Linked DNA regions of Homo sapiens: all the other regions are reported to be linked to region 3. The links are microRNA targets in miRTarBase. Many come from high-throughput screens and were not tested one by one. Region 3 holds a microRNA gene; each other region holds the end of a gene's coding sequence.

Region 1 (5,069 bases), not on the chromosome of region 3:
ACAGCTCCTGGGGCTTCCCGGCCGTCTGTGCAGGGTCATCTCCCCAGGGAGGTCTGCAGGGGGAGAGTGGGGTTGTGTCTTGTTCATCTCTCCCACCTACCCCATGGCTGGAACAAGCCAGGATGGCACATGGGGGTACTCAGAGAGGTCATGTGCAGAAAAGGGGGAAAGGGCGTTCCTGGCGGGGGGCACAGCCACAGCAAAGGCAAGAAAGTGTGAAAGCACCTCCTGTTCCCTGGATGGATGGAGAGTCGCTGGGCTGCCCCTCCCCCAGCAGCCCAAACCTCAGGGAAGGCTGATCAGGATCTTACCTGCCTCTATGACCTTGAGGTCGAACTTGACCTTGGAGGAGCCAGCAATGACTGCGTAAGATCCCTGGTCGGCAGGGCCCACTTCCCGCACTGTCAGCGTATGCCGTGTGCCCTCTGTGGCCAGGCCGTACTTGTTGCTGGCGCTGATGTCACTGCCTCCGCGCTGCCAGCGCACCTTCACTCCTGCCCGCTCTGTCTCGGCCTCGAACACGGCAGGGCTGCCTGCGGCCACTTCCACTGACCGTGGCTTCTTGCTAAAAGCTGAGACTGAAGGGCCAGGTGGAGGCTACAGCGGCCCCTGGTTGGAGCGTGCACCCCGCCCCTGCAGCCCCTCTCAGTAAATACTGTGCTAGCACTTTCTATGCATCCCCTCACGTAATACTCTACCAGTTCTCTGAGGTAGTTGCAGTTATTCTGTTCATTTCTCAGAGGAGGACACTGAGGCTCAGAGAAGCTAAGCGGCTCCTCCAAGATCACACAGCTAGCAGTCGGGAGAGCCAGGGCTGTGGTCCTGACCTCCCAACAAGACTTTTTCTGCATGTGTCCACTTTCCCTGCTTGGAGACACCCGTGATGAACCCAGCTCCCTTTCCCCCAACCATTTCGGGCCCTTGGCAGGGGGCGGGGAAGTCTGCCTACTTGGAATGTGGCCAAATTTGTCCTCCAAGGACCTCAGGCTGGGTATCAGCAACTGAGATAAAGCTGGCCTGGGAGGGCGCTGGGGGATGGGGACCTGGATCTCTGCCCTGGACAACCTTCATAAGGGCACAGCCCAGGCCCAGGTCCCTGGGCTGTGATTTTCCCTGCCCTTGGCCTGGGTTCAGGGGCTCCTGACTGTCCTCTCTCAGAGAAGAGGGGCTGTGTCACCCTCAACATGGGGGCCACACCGTACAGGCTCATGAAGCAGATAATGTCACAGCCAGGAGGAACCAACCCAATGCCACCACCACCCCCGGCACCCCAGGTTGGGAGACTGAGACCCATAGTGGGTAGAGACTGGTCTGAAGGCATGCCGTGAGCCTGGCTCAGCTCCATACTAAACGTGGGCTCTGTCCGCGGGGAACCTTGCTGTGGAAGGTGAAGGCAATGGGACAGGGAAGGGGTCCCTTTGCATTCTCAGAATGGGTTGACCCCGGGTGCTTCCTGTCTTGGCTGTGTCCCCTCTCTGCGTCCCTGACCTTGGGTTTACCTTCACCTCTCATCAGAGGGATGGGAAAAAGAAACCGAGAATCAAAAAAGGACCCTGGAGGACTGGCTGCCCCTGTCCTGGGGCTCAGAGGCCACGTCCTCGTCAACCCCCTCAAGAACTCCCTCCTAGCCCTGCTCCCCAATTGTAGACACCCCCCTGCTCCCACACTTAGACCCAACCCCAGTCCTAAAGCTACCTGGCTTCTTCCCCGGCTCAGGCATCCTGAGAGACGTCACACCAGGCACGAAGCAGGCACAGGTCACCCAAAGAGGGACTGAGTGGGGTCCTGTCCTTCCCACTATATATGGGGACCTCCCCCCTCCCCAGGCTCTGCTTATCTGCCTCCTGTCCAGCCACCTGCTAAATATAGATGAATTCCAGAGAGCTGAGGTCTCTCCAGGGAGAAGGTAGGGCCACATTGTCCCTGGCTGGCTCCTGTCCCTTCCCCCCTCACCCCCCGCAGCACAATTCTGCCTCCCCAACCTTTGGCAAGCCTCAGGGGTACTCCAAGCCCCGTGTGTGTCCCTCTTACAGCAAATTGTACGGTGGGAGCATGCTGGGCCCATAACCCTAAGGCTAACGGGTCAGGAGCATCCTCGCAGGCAGTTCAGGCAGTGGTCATGTCCACAGACCCTGGGGCCAGGGTGTCTCTGAGTCCTAGCACTGCCATCTCTTTAATCTCAAAGCACCTGGTTTCCTCATCTGTAAAGCGGGGTGGGTGAAAGCAGCACCCACTGCACAGGATTGTCACACGTATGAAGTGGGTTTATAATTTTAAAAATGTTAGGCCGGGTGTGGTGGCTCATCTGTAATCCCAGCACTTTGGGAGGCCGAGGCAGGCAGATTATTTGAGGCCAGGAGTTTGAGACCAGCCTGGGCAACATGGCAAAACCCCATCTCTACTAAAAAAATAAAAAATAAAATAAATACACACACACACACAAATTAGCCAGGTGTGGTGGTGTGGACCTGTAGTATCAGCTACCCAGGAGGCTGAGGTGGGAGGATCGCTTGAGTCCAAGGAGTTCCGGGCTGCAGTGAGCCAAAATCGCACCACTGCACTGCAGCCTGGGTGACAGAGTGATAATAATAATAAAAATATTATTTATTATTATTTTTTATTATTAATATCTCAAAGAATAATAATAAAAAAATAAAAATGGGCTGGGCGAAGTGGCTCACACCTGTAATCCCAGCACTTTGGGAGGCTGAGGCGGGCAGATCACTTGAGCTCAGGAGTTCGAGACCAGCCTGGGCAACATGATGAAACCCCATCTGTACAAAAAATACAAAAATCAGTCAGGCATGTGACGCACACCTGTAGTCCCAGATGCTCGGGAGGCTGAGGCAGGAGAATCACTTGAGCCCGGGGGGTCAGGGCTGCAGTGAGCCATGTTCGTGCCACTGCACTCCAGCCTGGGCAACAAAGTAAGACCCTGTCTCAAAAAAAAAAAAATAAAAATAGAAGAATGAAGACACAACACCATTTTGCCTTCTCTTGTGGCCCTGCAGTAGGACTAGGGAGCTGCAGGGTTGGGCTGCAGTGAGCCCTCTGGGGTTGAGGAGGTGTGGGGCGGGTATTTGTCCCTACGATAATGGCCCCAGAATCTGGGTTCCCTAAGGTCTTTGACAGCGTTGGGAAGTCCCTCACTCCCAGGCTGTCTACTGCCACTACTTGCTACCGTCTGGAGGAAAACACAGGACTTACAGGCTTCTCCGCTCAGCTTGGTCTGTTTCTCCCCTGCTGTGGCTAGGAGCTAGAAAGCAAATAGAACCTGGGGGTCCCACCAGGGATTCACTTGGGTCTAAAGTCCTGCTGGGCGTGCAGCTCGTGAGAACCCTTTGCGGCCCACAGGAGCTTTGGGGCTTAATTCCTGTCCTCGGAATGCTGAAGAGTATCCTCTTCCAGATAAGCAAGGCCTCCCACTCCATGTTGACGTGTCGGGACAGACCTGGAGTGTGATCCAACTTGGCCACTCAACGGCTGTGACCTTGGGGAAATAATTTGACCTCTACAAGCCTCAGTTTCCCATTCTATAAAATGGAGTGATATTAGACTCCACATCTCAAGGTTGGCAGATACTAATTGACCAGAATATCAAATGTTGTTGCTGGTCATGGTCATCATCATCATCATCATCATCATCATGAGTTCAAACCTCATCAAGGCTTAAAAACAACAACTATCAGGAGTAGAGAGCTTTTAAATAGGATCTGCTCTCCTAATCACAATTGAGGACTTGTTCTTTCCACCAAACTCTAACTCCTGTTCAGGCGCTCTGTGTCATTGGTCCTCATGTTCCCAGGGTCCAGCATTGGGTACAGTCCTCGGTAAACACCCGATGGACAAATGACAAAAAGAGACGTCGCAGCACACAGGGGCCAAAAGAGATACACAACAAATTTTAAAAGAGACTCTGTGCTGCAAGAGGATGGATTGAGAATAACTTTACTTGTTTTTTGGGAGGAGGTTAATGGGTGGGAGGGGTGAGAGGGGAGATCTGATTTACATACGGACTTGAGACTCCCAAGGCAGTACCCCGGGTCGTCCTCTGCAAGGTTGCCCCGGTGGGGTCTGACGCCCAGCTGGCGTCCGGGAGCCGGGGTGGAGTCCTGGAGGGAGGCGAAGCGGGATGTGGAGGGGGCCTGGAGTGGGGGGAGGGGGCGGGTGAGGCGAGGCCCGGCCCGCCACAGTCCTGCCTCTGGGCCCCGGGAGCGTCCTCCCTGTGTCCGGGCCGGGCGAGGGCTTAATGCTATGGCCAGCGGGGAGGCCTGGCGGGGCCCGGCGGGGGCTGCGGGCTCAGTGGGGCGGGTGGCGCCGCTCGGCCAGGCCCCCGCGGCCCAGCACTTCGCCGCTGAACTGGTAGGTGAGCTTCTTCTTCACCTTCTTGACCTCGCCCGTCTTGCCGTAGTTGCGCAGCGCGCGCGCCATCTTCTGGTAGGTCATCTTCTTGCGGTTGCCCTTCTGGATGCCCCAGCGGTGCGCCAGCGCCTCCTTGTGCTTGGACGAGAACTGGAAGGTGCCCTTGTCCTTGTCCACCCACCAGATGCTGTCCTTCATGTCGCCGCTGCGGAGCAGGTCCAACAGGAACTGGTACAGGCGGATCTTCTTCTTGCTGCCTGCGGGGGGGAGGGCCCGGTGGGAGGGGGCCCGGGGCCCACATGGGAGCCGCCCCCACCGCCTTGCGTACGCACAGGGGCCCGGGGACGGGGTGGCCGGGAAGGGCAGGGGAACGGCTGCCCCAGCCCGCGCCGGGCGTGCATACACAACGCACCCACACTCACACACACACACATGCTTGCGCACACACAGGCGTTCACACACACCCACTCACACCCACGCACTCACCCCCCCCACGCGCACACACTCGCACCCACACAGTGCACCAAGTACACACACATGCTCACATCCACATAACGCACCCACACCTCCTTACACATGCTCACACATCACGCCCACACCCACTCACACACGTGCTCACACAACGCACCTTCTCACACCCACTCACACTCATGCTTAAACACAATGCAACCACTCACTCATGCTCACACCCACACACGCTCACACGT
Region 2 (5,069 bases), not on the chromosome of region 3:
CAGAAACAAAGAGACAATTAGGAGGCACTGCAGTATGCCAAGCAAGTAATGATGGCCTAAAAAGCAGTGACAGCTGAGAGCAGGATACAGAAGATACTTATCCTTGTTCCAGATACAAAGTAAGGCGCATCTTCAGAACAAGTCTAAGAGATAGATGTTCCTATTTTTACACAAGAAGAAATTTGAGCTCTGAAGGATGTTACTTGCTCAAGATGACACAGCTAACAAGTGGAAGAGCAGGGATTCAAACTTCAGAGATTTTGCTCCTAGGTAGTATGATGAGCCAGTATCTCCAAATGCGTGTCCAATTATAAACCAACAGATCATGTTTTCACAATTAATTCTGGTCTGTTCAACTTAGAAATAATTCCAAAATAAAATTCCTCTTCCCATAGAGAAGCATAGCAAGCACGAAGGAAAAATACTCTAGCAGTTTTAACATTGCATATCCTTAAGATTTTAATATTCCAAGCTGTGTACAATTTTAGTACATTCAAATTCTAAAGGTTATCTCTTTATCTTATAGTTCTCTAATTACACATTCTCCAACTAATAATTTTACATGGACCACAAAGTTTAAAAGCGATCTTATTAGCCTACAAATCTCCACTGTCCTCTTATTCCTATAGTGCTGAGCATGTTAAAAAAAAAAAAAAACCTTATTGATCAAAAATAAAACTTGAATTTTGAAACATGCTTAAAATGACATCAGTAGTCTTCCTTAAGAAGTATAGGCTTAACTGGGGAATAGTCAATATTTTAAAATTTATTTACTATATGCATGTTATATATACTTGCTTTATGTGTATTATAAAGCATAATCTATATTTACAAAACTGTAAAATACACACCTCTAATAATGAGTTTTAAAGCTAAATGAGCAAAATATTCCTCTAGTTTTTCTTTAGCAGTTCTGTGAATGGATTTTTTTTTTTTTTCTTTTGAGACAGTCTCACTCTGTTGCCCGGGCTAGTGTGCAGTCATGCGATCTTGGCTCACTGCAACCTCCGCCTCCCGGGTTCAAGCGATTCTACTGCCTCAGCCTCCCAAGTAGCTGGGTGTGGCACCTGCCACCATGCCTGGCTAATTTTTTGTATTTTTAGTAGAGACAGGGTTTCTCCATGTTAGCCAGGCTGGTCTCAAACTCCTGACCTCAAGTGATCCAGCCGCCTCGGCCTCCCAAAATGCTGGGATTACAGGCATGAGCCACTGTTCCCAGCTGGATTTCTTACTCTAAGTTACTTATCTTAAAAAAAAAATAGTCTAAGATTACAAATTATCAGTTCCAGAAGAGATATACCTAACACAAAAATTAACCTACTAAATTGAACTATATGAGTATCAATACAAGCAACATGAGTAAGCCTTAAATTTCATGTTTTTAAAGCTTACAAAGGGTGTAACTAATTTATTCAACTCCAACACTTTATTCTTATTACAGAATCAAAGCTTTTAGACATTAAGAGGAACAAGGGAGGATCTGAACTATTTTAGGTTTAAAAGCCCATGATCAGGGATATTAATTGCAGCCATAAATAAACTGCTGAGGCCAAATAAACAACTGCATTCCTATAATCGCTGCCAAAAACACTGCATACATCCTCAAACATTGAGACAAAGGATGGCAGACAGGTTTCAACTCTAATTGTTAAGTGGCTGCCTCCAACAGAATATTGAGACTGGGGAACAATGTGGGGCAGGTTTCAACTCTAATTGTTACGTGGCTGCCTCCAACAGAATATTGAGACTGGGGAACAAAGTGGGGCAGGTTTCAACTCTAATTGTTACGTGGCTGCCTCCAACAGAATATTGAGACTGGGGAACAATGTGGGGCAGGTTTCAACTCTAATTGTTACGTGGCTGCCTCCAACAGAATATTGAGACTGGGGAACAACGTGGGGCAGGTTTCAACTCTAATTGTTATGTGGCTGCCTCCAACAGTATATTGAGACTGGGGAACAACGTGGGGCAGGTTTCAACTCTAATTGTTACGTGGCTGCCTCCAACAGTATATTGAGACTGGGGAACAACGTGGGGCAGGTTTCAACTCTAATTGTTACGTGGCTGCCTCCAACAGAATATTGAGACTGGGGAACAACGTGGGGCTTGATGTCAAAGAGAACTCAGAAGGATTATAAAAGCCTGTCGTGGGCACAAGAATGTGGTACCTTGTGCTACTCTTGGCTTCAGCATTAAGCTGACAAAGACTTCCTACTGCAATACCTGACTTTCGTTTCTATTATGAACACGATATTTCACTGTTGTTTCTCATCAAAAGCACCTGATGTCAATGTATCAAAATACAGAGATCATGAAATTCTTTTTTGCTATGTCCGACAAAATGAACAAGAAACTGAATACCAGTTTTCTAGATGCACTAATAAATAACTTCAGTTAAAATAACTAGAGTTACATTTTTTCAAATGCTCTTATTCATCTGGAAAATTCAGTGTTATATATAAATGTTACATATACATATGTGTGTATATATATATACTGTTTTAGGAGAAAACAGCATTTCAGTTTGATATTTTAAATGCCAATTATGCACATTTATAATAGTAAGATTTCCCATTAAGTGAAACGTTATAGTTACCTATAAACGTTCATTTTTCACTATTTACAATTTGAATTATGTAATACTTGCATACTGCAACTAATTGTTATAGAAGAGTCACATAGACAATATAAATCTGATGTCCAATCCTTTACAAATACGAAATTTGTTTCACTGGGTTTTCAAACTATCAAGTATAAATAGGAAAAGGTCAGCAATACTTAGGATGAGGCACTTTAACAATTACTCAGAAAGGTTAAGTGTACAAAACTGTAAACCAAAACCCTGCATATTAATCTTATCCTTAATTTCAGATGTGATTAATCTGAGATGGTCTATTTAAGGAGTGTTAAGATCATCACAGACCAGTTAATGTGCCCATATACAAATGAACTAAACTATCTAATGACACTTGGGTTTCAGAAAGGGACTCTTTCAACACTAAAACTTCTGTAGAATTTTTTCATAAACAAGTATAAACACACTGCTCTCACAAAGGCAAATGGTATCTCTACCATATTCCTAGACAAGAATGCCCTCAAATGTTTAACTGAATCACAATTTTACAGTCTTATGTACTCTTTAAAAATAGTTTTCAAAATACTCAGAAATTTTAAAATTAAAACTACCAATACTTTTTAGATTACAATTTTAAGATAAAAAAGGTAACGAATAGGTATTTTACCAGCCTTTTGTGAAAGACCTTTTAAACATTTCTATTTGAGCACCTCATTTTCAACCTTAAATCATGTTCTCTGTATATTTACACTGCACGTTTTGGTAGTTCAGGTAATAAATACTTGATTAAGGGTAATAATTCCCTTTTTTTTTTGGAGACGGAGTTTTGCTCTTGTCGCTCAGGCTGGGGCGCAATGGCGCAATCTCAGCTCACTGCAACCTCTGCCTCCCGGGTTCAGCCGATTCTTCTGTCTCAGCCTCCCAAGTAGCTGGGATTACAGACACCCGCCACCATGCCTGGCTAATTTTTGTATTTTTAGTAGAGACGAGGTTTCACCATGTTGGCCAAGCTGGACTCGAACTCCTGACCTCTGGTGATTCGCCCGCCTTGGCCTCCCAAAGTACTGGGATTACAGACATTAGCCACCACACCTGGCCAATTCCTGTTTTCTGAATTCACTATGCTGTATTTTTTCCCCAACTGTCTGATTTCCACATTCTTCTATTAGTTAAAAAAAAAAAAAAAAAAAAAAAGGCTGACTCAAATTTTAAAGTTTACCAGAAGAGATTAAAATCTTGATATATACCAAGAAAGAATCTGTGGACCCATTAGCTAAGTTTTAGGTAAGAGTAGCTAAATCTCATTAAACCTGTTTATTTCTTCTAATTTATAATTTGAGTAATTTCCATAGCTCAGATATACAAATGTCCTTTAATAAAAATGCAGTAATAATTTAACATGGTTAGCTGTTCCAGGTTCACTTATCAAAATAACTTGCCATGAATGTGTACACATGTACTTCTTAATTCCCTAGAACAGTTTCTCCTTTTCTAAAGAAACTGGCTTTCAATCAATATACTACCAGACACTTAAGTCTCTACTAAAATCAGAAGTTAACCAGTTTTCAAATACATGGAAAGAGAAAATACTGATTTAGAAAGACAAAAATTAAGCTTGGCAAAAGTGGTGACTTTTATTTACAATTGCATGTGTCAAGATTACAATGGAAACACTAGTGATACCATCTGAACAAAAGCAATGATTTATTGGTAATGGCAATGAATGAAACATTGACAGTCTCTGGCGAGAATCAAGCAATTATCCAGGAGCTGTAGATCTGATTGCAATATGGTTGTCCAGTGTCTTTTGTACCTTAGTGGCTTTCTCCTTTTTTGCCAACTACCTAGAAAAACAAAAATAAGTTTATATGTACATCCTATTGATTTTAAATATGAGTTATTAAAAATACTAATAATCAGTTTAAAACCTTGGTATTAATTTTTATCCTTGGATCTTTTCTGGCATGCAATGTATTTTCACTGTTGAAGCAAACTGTGACCTCCCCTCCAATCCCAGCCACAAGGAATTAAAAATAAAACACATGCAGGCTATTTTTGGTTTCACACAGTTTTTTTTTTTTTTTTAAATAGCAATTTTTAAAAACAAGGTTGAAAGTTTAGAGAAGTTAATTTAAAAAATGATGCTATATGAGTAAAACATATTTGACATACTATTTTTAGATAGTTAGAAATCAAATGTCGATCACAAAAGAATCTGGAATTAGAAGCGTATGTTAAACTCATGTCCTTCATGCCCAATATAGCAAATTTCCAGACTTTCCCCCTCAATACACTGACATGCAATGAAAACAGATTAAAAGTGACTAATTTTTTCTGGTTTAAGAAAAAGATCCTGGTTACTTTAAGAGTACTATTAAAAATGAAATGAATAAACCTTGTTTCTGTCAATGATTAGAAAAATCCTCTACTGGAGGATTATAAAAAACATTCTGGTTGCTATATATGTGGCAGCATAAAAATGTGAAGAATAAAA
Region 3 (5,073 bases):
AACAGAGAAAACCCATTTATTTTCAAAGACTATATTCAAAGACTATATTAAATAGACTATGCTGCAAAATCTCATATTCCATTAGAAAGCAATGTCACATTAATGTACACTCCCCCAAATTAATTTTTATAAAAAGTTAAATCATTAGCAATAACAAGCGACAATATTTCAAAAGTGATTTTCAGATTTTTCATTTCAATCCCAGTTATCTAAATTGCAAAAACAGTCGTTGAGAGGGAAGCCCTACCAAAACCTATGAATGGAGAAGGGAGAAAGGTGTAGTTCAAAGTTTCTCAATTATGGCCCTGTTGACATTTTGGGCCAGATAATTCTTTATTGTAGGGAGTTCTCTGTGCACCACGGGATGTTTGGCAGCAGCACCCCTCTGCTCTATCCACAAGATGCCAGTACCACTGCCTGCTACTCTGAAGTGGTGACAACCAAAACTGTCTCCAGATTTTGCCAAATGTCTCCTAAGGGAAGAGGAGTGGAGGAATCAGCCGTGGTTGAGAGCCACTGGGTTAGGTAGAACCGCTTTATTTTAGTGGTTTGGATCAGTGATACTCAAGAGATCAGGATAGTCACCTGGAGGGCTTTTCCAACCATACATGGCTCCAGAGATTTTAGTATGCAGCTCACACCCCCTCAATTATTTGTAATTACGTATACCTCCATTGCCCCCTCTCATCTCTGTCCAGTGTGGTGCAGTACACCAAAAAAAAGTAGAGCAATTTTTCAAAGCCTAAAATATTCTGGGTTAATCAGATGAAATCTGTGAGAGCCTTTTCCTTAATGACGGCCCCTCCAAGCCAATTTCTGAACTCATGTAATTCCTCTTGAGTTCTGCACATGCACAGCCATTTTATTGGCAACTGTAGCACCAGAACTTCACTGTCTTTCTTTACCTGTTCTGGGAGAAAACTGACAAAAGTTGTGATAATCCCTGCCCTTCTCACTATTATGAGAGAGAGGGGCAAGCAAGGCCACGGCACAGAGCAATTAAAAACACACTCTCCTCTTCCCTTTCTATAAATGCCATCCACACACCGCAAACATGCGGAGTCTCATTCTTTTATAAGCAACAATCCTTCAACTATGATCATAACTGTCTCGTCACTCTGGGTGGTGAGGTGGCCATAAGTCTGAAAAAGTGAGGCTCTTCGGTGAAGACCAGATACATGGAAACATGCTTCTCCTACCTGCCAAAATAGCTCCATGCCTCTGGCCCAAACCTTAATCAAACCCTTGGCTTTCTGCAGCAATGTTACACATAAAATGCTTTCACACACATTACCTTAAATGATCCTAAACAATCTTGTAAGTGGGATGGGGAGGTGTTTTTATTCTCATTTTATGGATGAGGAAACTCTGGCCCAGTGAGGTTATGAGACTAGTCTCAGCCAGTTATTTACTGGGGGAGCCAAGATTTGAATGCAGCTTGCTGACCTCAAAGCCAGTGCTTTTTCCATTAAATTTCACAAAAGTAGTGCTCAGCAGAGCTACAGCTTTAAAGCCATGATGGTAGTCTTTAGATTCCATGCATTTAGGACTCTTTGCAAGGCCTGGATCTTAAAAAAACAAATTCTACTCTGCTGTATTCATGCAGGTCTGACAAATAGCAGTAAGGCAGTCATCCTTCTTAGCAAGCTACCTACAACTGACAAAGCCATATATTTTTCTAATGGAAAACGTCTCCACAGACAAGGAAATAAAGTCACTTAACTTTCCAGGATTCATTAACTAAAGCTGATGTTGCTTCTGATGCTGTTGTTAATGTCCCACAAAATTAATCTAACAATACCTACTAACTCCTTGTTCACAAATCACACACTCTAAATTTGGAGTGTCCTAGAATGATGTCTCTTTTCTTGTTAGTAAAACTGCTGAGAGCCATTCCCTAGCAAGGCTGGCAAGTACAGGTTTGCTATTGGAAGATACTGGAAGGAGAAACTGCCATTAATAAAGCATGAATACTTGTCATTAGCCAGACTGGAACATTGGAAAAGTGACATTTTAGCTTAGAAGGAAGGTCTCTGAAGCTATATGGGTAGGTTTGAGGGTCTTAAAGTTGGCTTCCATTTGAAGGGGCACTCCTCCCAGCAGATTGCTACAAATCTCCTCCCAGCTGATTGCTCCCATTGGCCACCTTTCTGAATGTCAACATTAGGAAATAAGTTTAATATTTACATTTTGTGAAAGCATGACCAAGAAAAGGTAATACTAACCTCATCTATAGCTTTTTTGTAGCTCTGAAATGAGAGGAACCCAATCCAGAAGAATCCACAGAAGGAGGAAAAGCCAGCAGAAAGGCAGCAGATTAGACACAAAATTGTAATTGTTAGTACGCAACTGATAAATACAAAAGGGCGAAGAGAATGTCAATCCAGAATGATGCAAATCCCTTCATTATTACTCTCGGTATACGTCGTTACTTTAAGATGTTAAAAAAGAGTAAACCAAAAAGCTTCACGTTCATTTTACAGAAAAGATTCTCAAGAGATTTAAATAGAAAAAATGGATAGTAATTCATCCCAAATTAATTTTCAACTTTCAAATTTTAGCCTCCATACTCCTCTTTAAGGCTACCTGGGGGTCTATCATGTTACAGCAGTGAAGCTGGATGCTAAGTTGTTACGACGCCTGTTGGACCCTGCTTAAAAAGTTTGGTCCAGAAAATATAGTCCTGGAGGCATGAAAAATAGCAGAAAAACTGTAATATTAATTCATGTGGAAAATAATATGGGGAAAGAGTAGAAGAGATTAGAGAAGTTCATAGAAAGTACCCAAGTCTCTTTAACTGCTACTTTCAACATCTTTTTGCCAAAGTTGCTGAGTAGAAATTATGGAATGATAGGAGTTGTTTCTCTTCCTGTTTTATAGTTAAAGGACTGCTAATGATCAGCAAATAGCCAAAGGCAGAGGAGTCAATCCAAGATCTCTTCGGTTCTTTCCTAATCAGGTATGACTTTCTTCGGGATGTTTCTAGCATCCGTTCTTACTAATCTCAACAATTTTTGTTTGCATCATGAGTGTATCCCCAACTACTTAATCCTGTGGGTTCTCTGGTAAATTAAGAGTTCAAAACTCTTGGAGAGAAAAGCACTCACAGCTGGTCGACTGGGCCGGGTAATGTCCCTGGATTCTTCTGGTTTCACCTTCGCAGGCTCATGGGGGAGCACAGGTGATCCTTCTGACTTACTGTTGGCTAGAGGAAAAAAACAGAGGACCAAGAAAGAGATGGCCATCAAAAAGTGCTGGCTCAAGTTCTGAATGAATTATCTGTGATGTGTCATCACATTGAGATTACTCAGTGGACACGTCATTCACCTGGGCAAATCCTCAAGAAACATCCATGAAAAATATAATGTTCAGGCAAACACATTTAGGCTTGTGACCTGGAAATCACTAGTAACAATTAAAAAAAAAAGAAATGTAGCAAGTACTATCACCACTAGAGCACTTCTTATGTGTCAGGCATAGTGCTAAATGCTTTCCATGTCAATTATCTCATTTAATCCTCACTCCAACCCAATGATATGGCACTATTCTCCTATTTTACAGAACACAGATTTACAAAGATGACACAACTGTCCGGAGGTCACACTGAAATTATAGACAGAGCTGGAGTTCTGATTTCTGAAAGTCCTATTCTCAGTCACTATGCTAAATGAGCCTCTAAGGTTCTATGCTTGTTTTCTTCTTTTATCATTTGTCCAATCAGGATAGGTTATTTTGTTGAAATTTTGTGAGGGAAAAAAAATTTATTTTATTTGGTGGAACGGTTTTTAATTGGAGATGGGAGTGGTCTCAGCCCTTTAAAAATAAAAGAATGAGGTGAGGGCAAGAAGGGGGTTGTTATAGGAGAAGGGCCCTAGGCTGGAGGTACAGAGCAAGGTCAAGGGGACCCTGACAGCTGCAGAGTGAATAGCATCTTTGCAGTCTATGAGCTTACAGATAGAGAAGATGCAATTTAGGGTAGGAGAGGTGGTTTTTATTTCTTAAAAAGTAGTCTTTCTTGGACAGGGACATACCAGGGATACAACAGCCCTTTTAATCCGGAAGAACGAGGGGCTGAAGGAAATAAAAAGTAAGCCTGAACCAGACCAGAGAATTAAAATGGTATGCGTTTAAGTTTGGTTTATTTAAATATTTGCTCTAAGAATATGAAGTTGCCTATAAATAGAAAAAAGATAACAGAATGGCTGTTTTCTTTCTTTAGGTGTTTTAGAGATGGGGCTCTGTCACCTAGGCTGGAGCGCAGTGGGGCCATCATAGCTCACTGCAGCCTTGAACTCCTGAGCTTAAGCAATTCTTCTACCTCGGCCTTCCGGGTACCTAGGACTACAGGCGTAAGCCACTACATCTGGTAGTTTTCTAAATTAAGGAAATTTATATTTCGATCAAGGCAACAAAGACATACAGTAGATACTTCTGAGATGTGCCACTAATCAGAAGAATGCATATAGAGGCAGCTGTTGGCTAGTCCATATCCCAATCCAGAGACGTGAACATCAATCACATGTTAGATATCAAGCTTTTTAAAATGGAAATAGAGTGATTTATTTAAAACCCTGAAAGGGTGTTAGGAGATAAACTAAGGGTATTAGGAGGTGGTATGTAATAAAGAGTCTAAGAAAGAAAAAAGAACTGAAGGTTCTCATGAGGCTTTCATCAGACAGAGAAACTTATAAGTATGTTAATATTTGTCAAATTGCAATTAAAGTACTGGTCTTCATCACTTAGAAGCAAAATTATCTTCTGAAGAAGTTGATTCAGAAGGAGTGAATTTTAACTAGCTAGAAACAATGTATTATTATGTATCAGCACCTGGAAATAATAATGTTTTTCATAGGCCTCCCCATTACTGGAAACTAAACAATGATGAATAATTTGAATTAAATATTTAGAGAGGCTAATTTTTACTTAATAGGAATAACCAGAGGAGTCAACAATTTTTTTTTTTTTTGATGGAGTTTCATTCTTGTTGCCAAGGCTGGAGTACAATGGCGTGATCTTGGCTCACCACAACCTCTGCCTCCTGGGTTCAAGCGATTCTCCTGCCTCAGCCTCCCG

What was found. Region 3 holds the annotated microRNA hsa-miR-569 (AGUUAAUGAAUCCUGGAAAGU, at 1,722-1,742, opposite strand). A microRNA usually pairs through its seed, bases 2 to 8, with sites in the 3' UTR of a target mRNA and lowers its output. Matches are read on the target gene's strand: a 7mer-m8 pairs with bases 2 to 8, a 7mer-A1 pairs with bases 2 to 7 and ends in A, and an 8mer does both.
Region 1: the mRNA of SPI1 is a reported target of hsa-miR-569. Seed matches in the 3' UTR shown: 7mer-m8 at 3,970-3,976.
Region 2: miRTarBase lists TXNL1 as a target of hsa-miR-569. Seed matches in the 3' UTR shown: 7mer-m8 at 2,926-2,932.

The regions. Positions count from the first base shown.
Region 1 is chr11:47,350,928-47,355,996 of GRCh38, forward strand. It overlaps SPI1 (Spi-1 proto-oncogene), which reads right to left. Exons shown (of 5, transcript NM_003120.3): 5 at 3,933-4,619. The coding sequence ends at 4,300. MYBPC3 (myosin binding protein C3) reads right to left here and starts at 1,775. Exons shown (of 35, transcript NM_000256.3): 1 at 1,696-1,775; 2 at 312-578. The coding sequence starts at 1,720. RefSeq lists enhancers at 1-418, 419-1,399.
Region 2 is chr18:56,598,638-56,603,706 of GRCh38, forward strand. TXNL1 (thioredoxin like 1) reads right to left here. Exons shown (of 8, transcript NM_004786.3): 8 at 1-4,419. The coding sequence ends at 4,390. Among named protein-coding and RNA genes, the nearest start is that of TXNL1, 37 kb to the right of the region's middle.
Region 3 is chr3:171,104,958-171,110,030 of GRCh38, forward strand. It overlaps MIR569 (microRNA 569), which reads right to left and starts at 1,802; the gene lies at 1,707-1,802. TNIK (TRAF2 and NCK interacting kinase) reads right to left here. Exons shown (of 33, transcript NM_015028.4): 20 at 3,108-3,205; 21 at 2,226-2,249. It overlaps LOC105374216 (a long non-coding RNA gene), which reads left to right. Exons shown (of 5, transcript XR_007096163.1): 2 at 2,237-2,418; 3 at 2,881-2,959.